Linked DNA regions of Homo sapiens: region 2 is linked to region 1. A link means that fine-mapping ties the variant in region 1 to the expression of a gene that starts in the linked region. Tissue or cell type: whole blood. Region 1 holds a variant in brackets; the other region holds the start of a gene. All regions are shown on one strand. Distances are between the middles of the regions. Region 1 overlaps RAVER2 (ribonucleoprotein, PTB binding 2). Region 2 holds the start of RAVER2 (ribonucleoprotein, PTB binding 2).

Region 1 (5,381 bases):
GATGGTTTCCAGCTTCATCCATGTCCCTGCAAAGGACATGAACTCATCCTTTTTTATGGCTGCATAGTATTCCATGGTGTATATGTGCCACATTTTCTTAATCCAGTCTATCATTGTTGGACATTTGGGTTGGATCCAAGTCTTTGCTATTGTAAATAGTGCTGCAATAAACATACGTGCACATGTGTCTTTATAGTAGAATGATTTATAATCCTTTGGGTATATACCCAGTAATGGGATAGCTAGGTTAAATGATATTACTAGTTCTAGATCCTTGAGGAATCGCCACACTGTATTCCACAGTGGTTGAACTAATTTACACTCCCACCAACAGTGTAAAAGCATTCTTATTTCTCCACATTCTCTCCAGCATCTGTTGTTTCCTGACTTTTTAATGATCGCCATTCTAACTGGTGTGAGATGGTATCTCATTGTGGTTTTGATTTGCATTTCTCTGATGACCAGTGATGATGAGCATTTTTTCATGTGTCTGTTGGCTGCATAAATGTCTTCTTTTGAGAAGTGTCTGTTCATACCCTTTGCCCACTTTTTGATGGGGTTGTTTTTTTCTTGTAAATTTGTTTGAGTTTTTTGTAGATTCTGGATATATTAGCCCTTTGTCAGATGGATAGATTGCAAAAATTTTCTCCCGTTCTGTACGTTGCCTATTCACTCTGCTGATAATCTTTTGCTGTGCAGAAGCTCTTTAGTTTAATTAGACCCCATTTGTCAATTTTGGCTTTTGTTGCCATTGCTTTTGGTGTTTTAGTCATGAAGTCTTTGCCCATGCCTATGTCCTGAATGGTATTGCCTAGGTTTTCTTCTAGGGTTTTTATGGTTTTAGGTCTTACGTTTAAGTCTTTAATCCACCTTGAGTTAATTTTTGTATAAGGTGTAAGAAAGGGATCCAGTTTCAGCTTTCTGCTTATGGCTAGCCAGTTTTCCCAATCCCTTTCTTAAATAGGGAATCCTTTCCCCATCGCTTGTTTTGGCAGGTTTGTCAAAGATCAGATGGTTGTAGATGTGTGGTGTTATTTCTGAGGCCTCTGTTCTGTTCCATTGGTCTGTGTATCTGTTTTGGTACCAGTACCATGCTGTTTTGGCTACTGTGGCCTTGTAGTGTAGTTTGAAGTCAGGTAGCCTGATGCCTCCAGCTTTGTTCTCTTTGCTTAGGATTGTCTTGGCTGTGTTGGCTCTTTTTTGGTTCCATATGAAATTTAAAGTAGTTTTTTCCAATTCTGTGAAGAAAGTCATTGGTAGTTTGATGGGGATAGCATTGAATCTATAAATTACTTTGGGCAGTATGGCCATTTTTACGATATTGATTCTTCCTATCCATGAGCATGGAATGTTTTTCCATTTGTTTGTGTCCTCTCTTATTTCATTGAGCAGTGGTTTGTAGTTTTCCTTGAAGGGGTCCTTCACATCCCTTGTAAATTGTATTCCTAGGTATTTTATTCTCTTTGTAGGAATTGTGAATGGGAGTTTCCTCATGATTTGGCTCTCTGTTTGTCTGTTATTGGTGTATAGGAACGCTTGTGATTTTCCCACATTGATTTTGTATCCTGAGACGTTGCTGAAGTTGCTTATCAGCTTAAGGAGATTGTGGGCTGAGATGATGGGGTTTTCTAAATATACAATCATGTCATCTGCAAACAGAGAGAATTTGACTTCCTCTTTTCCTAATCGTTTTGTTTTTTGGCAGAGATAGGATGAAAATCGTGAGTTATGTTTGGGAGTCAATATGAAGATATATGTGGCACTAAAGGTTAGAAAGATAGATTGGGGAGTATAATGGTATGGGAGGCCTTTTGCAAGTCCTCAGATGAGATTATTTTGCTCATTGCTTTCATAGCCCCTCATACTTCCCCTTTGGGGACACCACATTTGTAACTCTTTGTTAAATGTCTAGCTTCCCCTATTAGATTGTGAGCTCTGTGTTGAAAGGGATCTTACCTGTTCTGTTCACCAAAACATTTCCAGTGCCAAACTTGGAATCTGGCACATGATACGGAATACATGGGAATGGGTGTGATTGCCCCCAGAGGAAGAGGGTGTAGAGTGCGAAAAAAGATATTCAGCGGCCACACATTGAGTAACACATGTGGCCACACAGGTGTTACTGTGTGTGACTCTGCCAGGAAGGCACCCCAAGGAGTACTACCTTACAGCTGTGAGTGGAGGAGAAAGAGCTAGCAAAGGAAATAGAAGAAAGAGCTTGGACAGTTATGAAGCAAATCAAGAAAGAGTACATCAAGAAAGTTAAGAAAGGCCTGGTGCAGTGGCTCAGGCCTATAATCCCAGCACTTTGGGAGGTTGAG[G/T]TTGGTGGATCACTTGAGGTCAGGAGTTCGAGACCAGCTTGACCAACATGGCGCAACCCCATCTCTACTAAAAATACAAAAATTAGCCAGGCGTGGTGGCAGGCCCTGTAGTCCCAGCTACTTGAGAGGCTGAAGCAAGAGAATTGCTTGAACCTGGGAGGCAGAGGTTGTGATGAGCTGAGATCGGCACCACTGCACTCCAGCCTGGGCAACAGAGTCAGACTCTTGTCTCAAAAAAAAAAAAAAAAAAGGAAAGAAAGTTAAGAAAGGGAATGATTAACAGGTTCAAATGCCCTGAGAATTCAAGTTAAATATGACCTGAGATTTTATGGGCTGATACGAGAATATAACCAGTATTTACAAACTGTTGTTGGCTCGTTTGTTTTAGGGAAACAGAATTAAATTGTATTTTATGTCAGCATAAGGAAAAAAGACATAGAATCAAAATCAAGCCTTTTAAAAAAGATTGTTAGAAACTAAGAGATAGCCTTTTAATAAGGGCAGTAAAGCCATTTTTTCTCATTTTTTGGAAGAGATGTTGGAACAGTTAGCTGTTCCTTTGGCAATAGTTTTCTTGCGTGTGGGACATGTGTTAAATGAAAAATGTGTTTCTTTAAATGTTAGCATCACACTTAGTGTGGTGAGATGCTCTTACTCTGAGAGCCGCATGGCACTAAGACCAATTGAGGGCAGAGAAGTTTAGTGAAATGACAGGCAGAATTGCCCATGCTACTTAAATTACTTCTCTGTCTCTTGCTATATCCATATTTGCTGTATACAACATATTGTCATGCAGTTCTAATTGAATTTGGGTAAATTAAATGTTCATATGGAGTAACTTCACTATATATTTCAGAGGGAGAGGGAGAGGAACTTGTAGAGAGCAATTTATTTGTAATTTGTGGATTGCTATGTATTTTTTAATGGGGGCTTTAAACTTTTCCTATAAAATTGCTCAAAACCTTTTATATTCTTTTATTGCAAAAGGTAAACAAATTGATATGGTTAAAATGTAATTTTACCAGATATGAATGTACATAATATTTCATTGATTTAGAATGTTATATTTGTATTATGTTTCCAGTTATATAAGCCGTCATATGCATTTGTTGCTTGATGCTGGAACAACTTCATTAGCTAGACAGGGCAGACTATTTTTATTGTTTTATGAATATTCAAGATCTTGTCTTAAGATCAGAATCCTGTAACCTTTTCATTTGATATTATTCATCAAAAGTGTACCAAATTAAAAGTGTCTGTGTGTTATGTCAATCTAATCTGATATTAAGGAAATATATACATGAATTGGAGAAAGAAATGGCCTCCTTTATGCATTTTGATGTTTTTGCTGTACCTTCATTTTTTCAGGTCCTTGCTGTCAAATAGGCTCTTTTAGAACTCTTTCTAGGAAGAAAGAAAGATTTTGTAACTTCATTTTTATTTCAGTTAAGTTTTATATAAAGTCTTCATAAAATTTTATATCACAGGTTTTTGGGTGGGAGGAAATCAAATATGTGTGTGATTGGAAAAGACTACCAAAAACCCCCCAGAATATCATAGGATTTTACAGTGAAACTCCTAATATAATCCCTGTACTTTCTATTTTGGGTTACTGTTGATGAAATTAGTTTAATGGAGGTGTCAGCATTAAAAAACGCACTGAAATAGAATAAAAAATGTCACAATGCATTGCATATAGTAGGGGTATTAACTTATAATTTTGTTTCAGAAAAAAGGTGTATGTTTATGTGTACCAAGTCACAGAAGTAAGATATATTTCTTACTGTGTTTTCAAACAATTTGAAAACTCTTTAATTCATTTCGTTATCTTCCAGCTTTTGTTACCTTATTGAATGGGGAACAAGCCCAGAACGCAATTCAGATGTTTCATCAATATTCTTTTAGAGGAAAAGACTTAATAGTCCAGCTTCAGCCAACAGATGCTTTGTTGTGTATTACCAACGTGCCCATTTCTTTTACATCAGAAGAGTTTGAAGAACTTGTTCGTGCTTATGGAAATATTGAGAGATGTTTTCTGGTCTATAGTGAAGTTACTGGCCATTCCAAAGGCTATGGATTTGTGGAATACATGAAAAAGGACTTTGCTGCAAAGGCTAGACTGGAGCTATTGGGTAGACAGTTGGGAGCATCAGCACTCTTTGCACAATGGATGGATGTTAATCTATTGGCTTCAGAGCTCATTCATTCTAAGTGCCTTTGTATTGATAAACTCCCCAGTGACTACAGGGATTCAGAAGAGCTGTTGCAAATTTTTTCCAGTGTCCATAAACCTGTGTTTTGCCAGGTATGTATTTTTAAGAGATTATTGAAATATTTTAAAATATATACATATGTATCTAATCTACATACACTCACAAATTTATCATACCTGTGTGATTAACACAATGGAAATTTAATTCTGCATCATTCTGTAGGGAAGACTTTGATCTCATGGGAAATTTTAAATCAGTTCCTCTGTTTATGGGCCAAAGTATGTTGTTATGTAGTTAAGTATGCCTTAGCAAATCCATTGCTTACTCATTCACCTCATTCCATCCATTCGTCCCACCATTTTTCCATCAATCCATTTATCTATCCAACTTTTATTTACCATCTTCTGTGTACCAGACACTATGCCAAGTGTCAGAAAGGCAGAGAATGGAAAGATACTCTATCTCAATACCTCACAATTTTGTAGAAGAGACGGACAAGTAAGCAAATAATTGCAAATCCTATATGAAGAGTGATATAATGGAGGATAGAAAAGTACTATGAAGTTTAAAAGGAATGTGTAGTTCTATCTTAATGTGGTCACGGTAGGTGAGACATCTAGAGAAGATCCTGAAAACTGATAACACTGGCGAGACTTTTCAAGCACTTTATCATAGTAAAATTAAATACATTCTAATAAATATATATATATATACTATATATAACACTTTTCCTTACAGAGTTTTGATAGCAACTGATCAATTATTTCTCTCTTGTTTCTCTCCATTTCTTCCTTCTCCGTTTTCCTTTTTACCGCACTCCCTTCCCATCCACGCTCCTTTTCCTCTT
Region 2 (5,381 bases), 32 kb before region 1:
ATATTTCCCACTGTGGCATATATTTCCCACTAGATTGGGTCAAAAAAGTTTGAAAGCCACTACCCTATACGACGTAGCAATATTGCACAAGGAGTGGGATCAATTCAAAGTAGCCACTTAATAAAATTGGCTTAATAATTTGATAACATTGTAATCATGTCCCCATTGGGGCCAAAACTGGAATTACATTATCATAACTCCCAAAACATAATCAACACCTGATTCATTCACCAGACTTAACCTCAAATAACATTTAATTATTTCCAAAAATTAAACCCATCTCTAAGAGGTGAGTATTTGCTACCACATAAACTATGCAGAATAATTTGCTGTAGATTATAAAGTCAATTCCAAAAAAGCACTTTGGGGCTGGGCGTGGTGGCTCACGCCTGTAATCCCAGCACTTTGGGAGGCCGAGGCGAGCGGATCATGAGGTCAGGAAATCAAGACCATCCTGGCTAACATGGTGAAACCCCGTCTCTACTAAAAATACAAAAAATTAGCTGGGCTTGGTGGCACACGCCTGTAGTCCCAGCTACTCTGGAGGGTAAGGCAGGAGAATCGCTTGAACCTGGGAGGCGGAGGTTGCAGTGAGCCAAGATCACGCCACTGCACTCCAGCCTGGGCAACAGAGCAAGACTCCGTCACAAAAGAAAAAAAAAAAGCACTTTGGAGAATGTTTTGAGCAAAAGCAATCACTGAAGTTATATTCAGACCACTATCCGTTTGCATATTTATTATATTTAATTATAATCATTGCATAATTTTCTCTCAGTGAGACTTAGCCCCTATTGTACAGGAGCATTATTTTACTATTTCTGTCTTCTTATTGCCTTTATATATTATCTAGCACATAAGGGACATTTAATAAATGTTTGCCAAGGAGGTGGTACTCATTTGGATAAATACATGTTCTGAAACATAATGAATGACTCAAGGTTACAGCCTATGCTAAGGCTATTCATGCTTCTTCACTTCAAAGAATGTACTTTTCAAAGTCTCTCAGCTCTACAAAATAGGGCCTTATTGGAGTTTAAAATGTATACCTTTTAAAATCAAAGGAATACAATTTAAAAGCAAAATGATACATTAATACTAGAATATCATGGATGCAAGCAGAGAAATAAGTGCTCTTATACAATGCTTGTGATAGGGAAAACTGAGGTAAGTTTGTAAATACATACAAAAAATCCTTAAATATGCTTACTCTAGATGCAGAAATTTTGCTTCTAGTTCTTCACTCTGTGGAAAAGTAATGATCTTCAAATATGTATAGAGGGTTAAACTCAGTGCTGTTTACAATAGATAAAAATAATAGGAAATACTAATGCTAGGAAATAAGTGAATTTTCTAATTCAACAGAATAATATGCAGCCATAAAAACCATGGTATTCAAATACATTGGCATAGAAAGGGATTCAGCAGACATACTGTAAAAAGCAGAAAACAGAGCTGTAAACTACAGAATATCATTCAAAAACATTTTTATGCAGTAATAGTCACGTAATAAAATTAATATTTTAAAAGTGAATAGTTCAGTGACTATTTAGTACATTCATATTATTGGGCTACTGCCCCCTCTGTCTAGTTCCAAAACTAGATTTTCATCATTCCATAAGGATGTTTGCACCCATTACCTTCTCCTCCAGCCCTTGGTAAACACCAATCTGTGTTCCGCTCTATGAATCTACCTATTCTGATATTTTATACGCATGGAATCATACAATATATGACCTTTTGTCTCTGGCTTCTTTCATTTAATGCTTTGGAGGTTCGTCCACCTTGTAGGGGTCCTTAATTCCTTTTTATGGCTAAAAATATTTCTTAGCATATATATATCCCACGCTTTGCCTATCTGTTCATCAATAAATGGACATTTGGGTTGTTTCTATCCTTTGGTTACCAGGAATAGTGGTGGTATAGAAGGGTGTATTGCCGAATATCATTTTAATGATACAAGTATTAGCAGCCATTATTTTTGGGTGGACGGATTACGGGTGAATTATTTTATGTTATTCAGAACACTGGGCTTTGGAATCAATCAGAACAGATCCCATTTCCTCACGTGTAAAGTGAGGAAAACAAAACCTACGTAATTGAATGATCATGAAGAGTAAATAAATATGTATATGTAAAGCATTTAGAAATGCGTGGTTGGGGGGAGCACATGGTAAGGACTGAATTTGTAGTATTTTTAAAAAATCTTTAAAACATTTTGTTTTTCTTTTAATTAGTGTTAAAGTCTTTTTTTTTTTTTTTTTTTTTTTTTTGCTAGTGTACTTGCATGCTACACAATTAAGATGCATGGTCCCCTTCGCTGATGGTCACCTGGGCTAGTGCCAAAGGCTGCTGGATTGTTTGATCTGATGACATCCGTTTGACTAAGTATAGTTCTACACTGTAACTCTCCCTCCAAGTTTCAATTAAAATAATGTTCCAAGCAGCGTATTCTCCAGCCCCTCTGCCACAGCTCCTTTTCCATTCTAGTCTTTGTTTCAGCATCACTTTCCATGTTGCAGACCCAACTACCCAGGTTTTACATTTTAGGAACTGCATGACAGGGACAGAGGGACAGGTGAAGGGCACAGGCTTTCTCATACACAGCTAGCAAAATACATTACGATCAGGTTTTACCAAATACATAACATTTCTCCCACAATGTCCCTCTTTTTACTCCCCAGAAAATCTCATTGTAAACTCAAACTTTGCCAAATATGCTCTTCTTGAACCAACAGAAGGGTTACCATCGGGAGCCAGCCGGGCTGCAGGAGGCGCCCTCCTGCCACCCCTCCAGCCCCATCTCGGGTGTGGGAAGACCGAGTTCGCGCCCGCAGCCCCCGGGCCGCCCCAGCGCGGGAGTTTCGAGGGGAGCCGGGGGAGAGCTGCGGCGTCACATGGGGGGCCAGCCGGGGACAGGCGCCTGGGGCTGAGTCTCCCGGCGAAGCCACCGCGAAGGGGCCGCATCCCCCAGAGAACGACCCTGGGCGTTCGCGAAGGCCTCGCAGAGAGGGGGAGCCCGCCTGCGCGTCCGCGCCCTCACAGGTGTCCGGGTGGCGGCGCCCGGCCCCGCCTGCGGACCCGCGAGAGGCGGGCGCGGGCGCGCCTGTGCGCCGGGGCCGGGGGCCGGCGGGGGAGGTTCCCGCGAGGTGGTTCTCGGGCTCCTCCTCGGCGCCTCAGGTTTCCTCTCCCCGCCAGCAGGCTGCTGGCTGCGGCGCCGCCTCTCTCTACTCCCTCCTCCCACCGCCCCCCTTCCCCGCGGTTGGGCCCACTCTGCGGCCTCTGCCCGCCTCGCCCTCGCCCGGGCCTCCTCCCGCTTTCTCTCTCCGCTTCCCCTGGAGCCTCCGAGGAGTCCGCAGCCGCTGGGCGCCCGGGAAGATGGCGGCGGCGGCGGGAGACGGCGGCGGCGAGGGGGGCGCGGGCCTGGGCAGCGCGGCGGGGCTGGGGCCGGGGCCGGGGCTGCGCGGGCAGGGCCCCTCAGCCGAAGCGCACGAGGGCGCCCCGGACCCGATGCCCGCCGCGCTGCACCCTGAGGAGGTCGCCGCGCGACTGCAGCGGATGCAGCGGGAGCTGAGCAACCGCAGGAAAATCCTGGTGAAAAACCTGCCCCAGGACAGCAACTGCCAGGTACTGGGACGGTGATAGGGGCGACGCGTCCCGAGGGGCGGCGGGGCGGCGCTCCGTGTCCAGGCTGGGATCGGGGGCGCCTCAGAGCGGTCCTGGGGAGTGGGTCGGCGCCGAGTGGTGAGAGCGGCCCCTCGGTTTGACTGAGTTCTTGGGGTTTCTAGCCTGCAGACGCCCTGCCAGGGAGGGGGGCAGATTGGGAAACTGAGGCTCTGAGTGGCGAAGCGGCTTCTCCAAGGTCACGGGAATCAGGGGCTGCTGCCTCCAAGTTCGGCCCGGTCTTTCCTTCCCCTACGGCCGTAGAGGAGTAGGAGGTGAAGGAGAGTGGAGGTGAGTTGTGGAGCACACATTTTGCGGGGGGGAGCGGGGGTAGAGGGGGCCGAAGCTTCGGGAGCACCTTGGCAGGGGCGAGGGCTCCAACGTATAGTCCCCGGTGCTCGGGAGTGCCATAGGGGGCAGGGGCACGAGAGAGCTGGGAGTGAGTTTCGCTGTTGTTGCAGAAGCACTTGCCCAAGTTTCTATGAAACAACTCTGTCTTCTCAGTTTGCTAAGGCCCCAGAATAGAGTTATTGCTGCGCTCCTTGGAGCCTTGCAGCCGCCTCCTGCTACGCCAAGTACAGTACTGGAGGGTTTGTTCTCAGTGACTTGGATGAGGTTTAAAGATAGCTACTCTGTGTATTTAATCCAGATTAACTGTTGCTTTTAAGATTAGAAACTCTGCATCTATTTAACTTTTTTTTTCCCCTGATTTCAAAAGCTGCATGCTCATTGTAGGAGAGCTAGGAAAGACAGAGAAGCACAAAGGGGACACAGAAATTACCCATATTTCTGATACCTGAAGATAACCATTGTTATCCTGGGATGTTGTTCTTTTCTCTTTTCCTATGCATATATATTTTTGTTTTATCAAAAGCTTGAAATCATTTCTTTGATTCTTCAGGATTTCTTAGCTGTCTGGATGTTCACACATGTTTCACATATAACCTGAATTTATATACTGCTCCGAGTGTGGTGGGCTGTCCTGGTAGTTGCGGATTTGTAGTTCCTCCTGTAACCGGATGCATGAAATTGCAAGAGGGCTGGCTATTGACAATTGCATGGCAGTTCTTCCATGTGACTTATAAAATAATGAGACCAATGCCCCATTACTATGTAATGAGACCTTACATAGCCATTCACAATAAATATGAACATATAACCTTATAACCCGTAGGCATGGGGGGCTATTTTGTTTCAAAATGCAGTGTCTGTCAGTATTGTTTATCTCATCTGTCTTTCAACTCTTTCCATTCCGCCATGGTCCACTTCCCATCTGTCAGGTAATGTTTTGTGATACTACCTGTTAAGGACACCTGCAATGGACTGATTTCTTGGAAGCAGCCTCCCCTGCCCATACAAATAGAGGACTGTAAGGGAGCTCAGGAAGGAGGAGGCTTGGAAGAAGCAGATGGCATTTTTTAAAAAAACAAATTTAAAAAATAGCAGCTCTTTGTATAGACAGTCTAGGAGGAGAGAAATAGAGAAGTATCTCAATGTCTTTGTAGAATGTCAGCTGTTTTTGTTATCACAATTCCTTGCATTAATTCTAAATATATTTAGACCCCAAATTGAAGACGTTCTGTCTATTCTTGCTTTGCTGTTGGTATCTTTCTCATTTCCCTTCGCAATAGACATGAAAAATATATCAAAGGGTCTAATAAAAGGAGCAGTTTTAATTAGTGATAGAAGCTTTCTCAGAATTACACTGGGATTTGTATTTT

The links. PIP is the estimated chance that this variant, and not a neighbour inherited with it, causes the effect.
Region 2: RAVER2 starts here. The variant in region 1 is fine-mapped to the expression of RAVER2 in whole blood (TOPMed, PIP above 0.99). The same link has a PIP of 0.9 or more in visceral fat.

What each region holds. Positions count from the first base shown.
Region 1 is chr1:64,773,467-64,778,847 of GRCh38, forward strand. It overlaps RAVER2 (ribonucleoprotein, PTB binding 2), which reads left to right. Exons shown (of 12, transcript NM_001366165.2): 3 at 4,157-4,626. Among named protein-coding and RNA genes, the nearest start is that of RAVER2, 31 kb to the left of the region's middle. The variant G/T (reference allele first, on the strand shown) is at 2,322.
Region 2 is chr1:64,741,798-64,747,178 of GRCh38, forward strand. It overlaps RAVER2 (ribonucleoprotein, PTB binding 2), which reads left to right and starts at 3,278. Exons shown (of 12, transcript NM_001366165.2): 1 at 3,278-3,624. The coding sequence starts at 3,376. RefSeq lists silencers at 2,932-3,031, 3,052-3,251.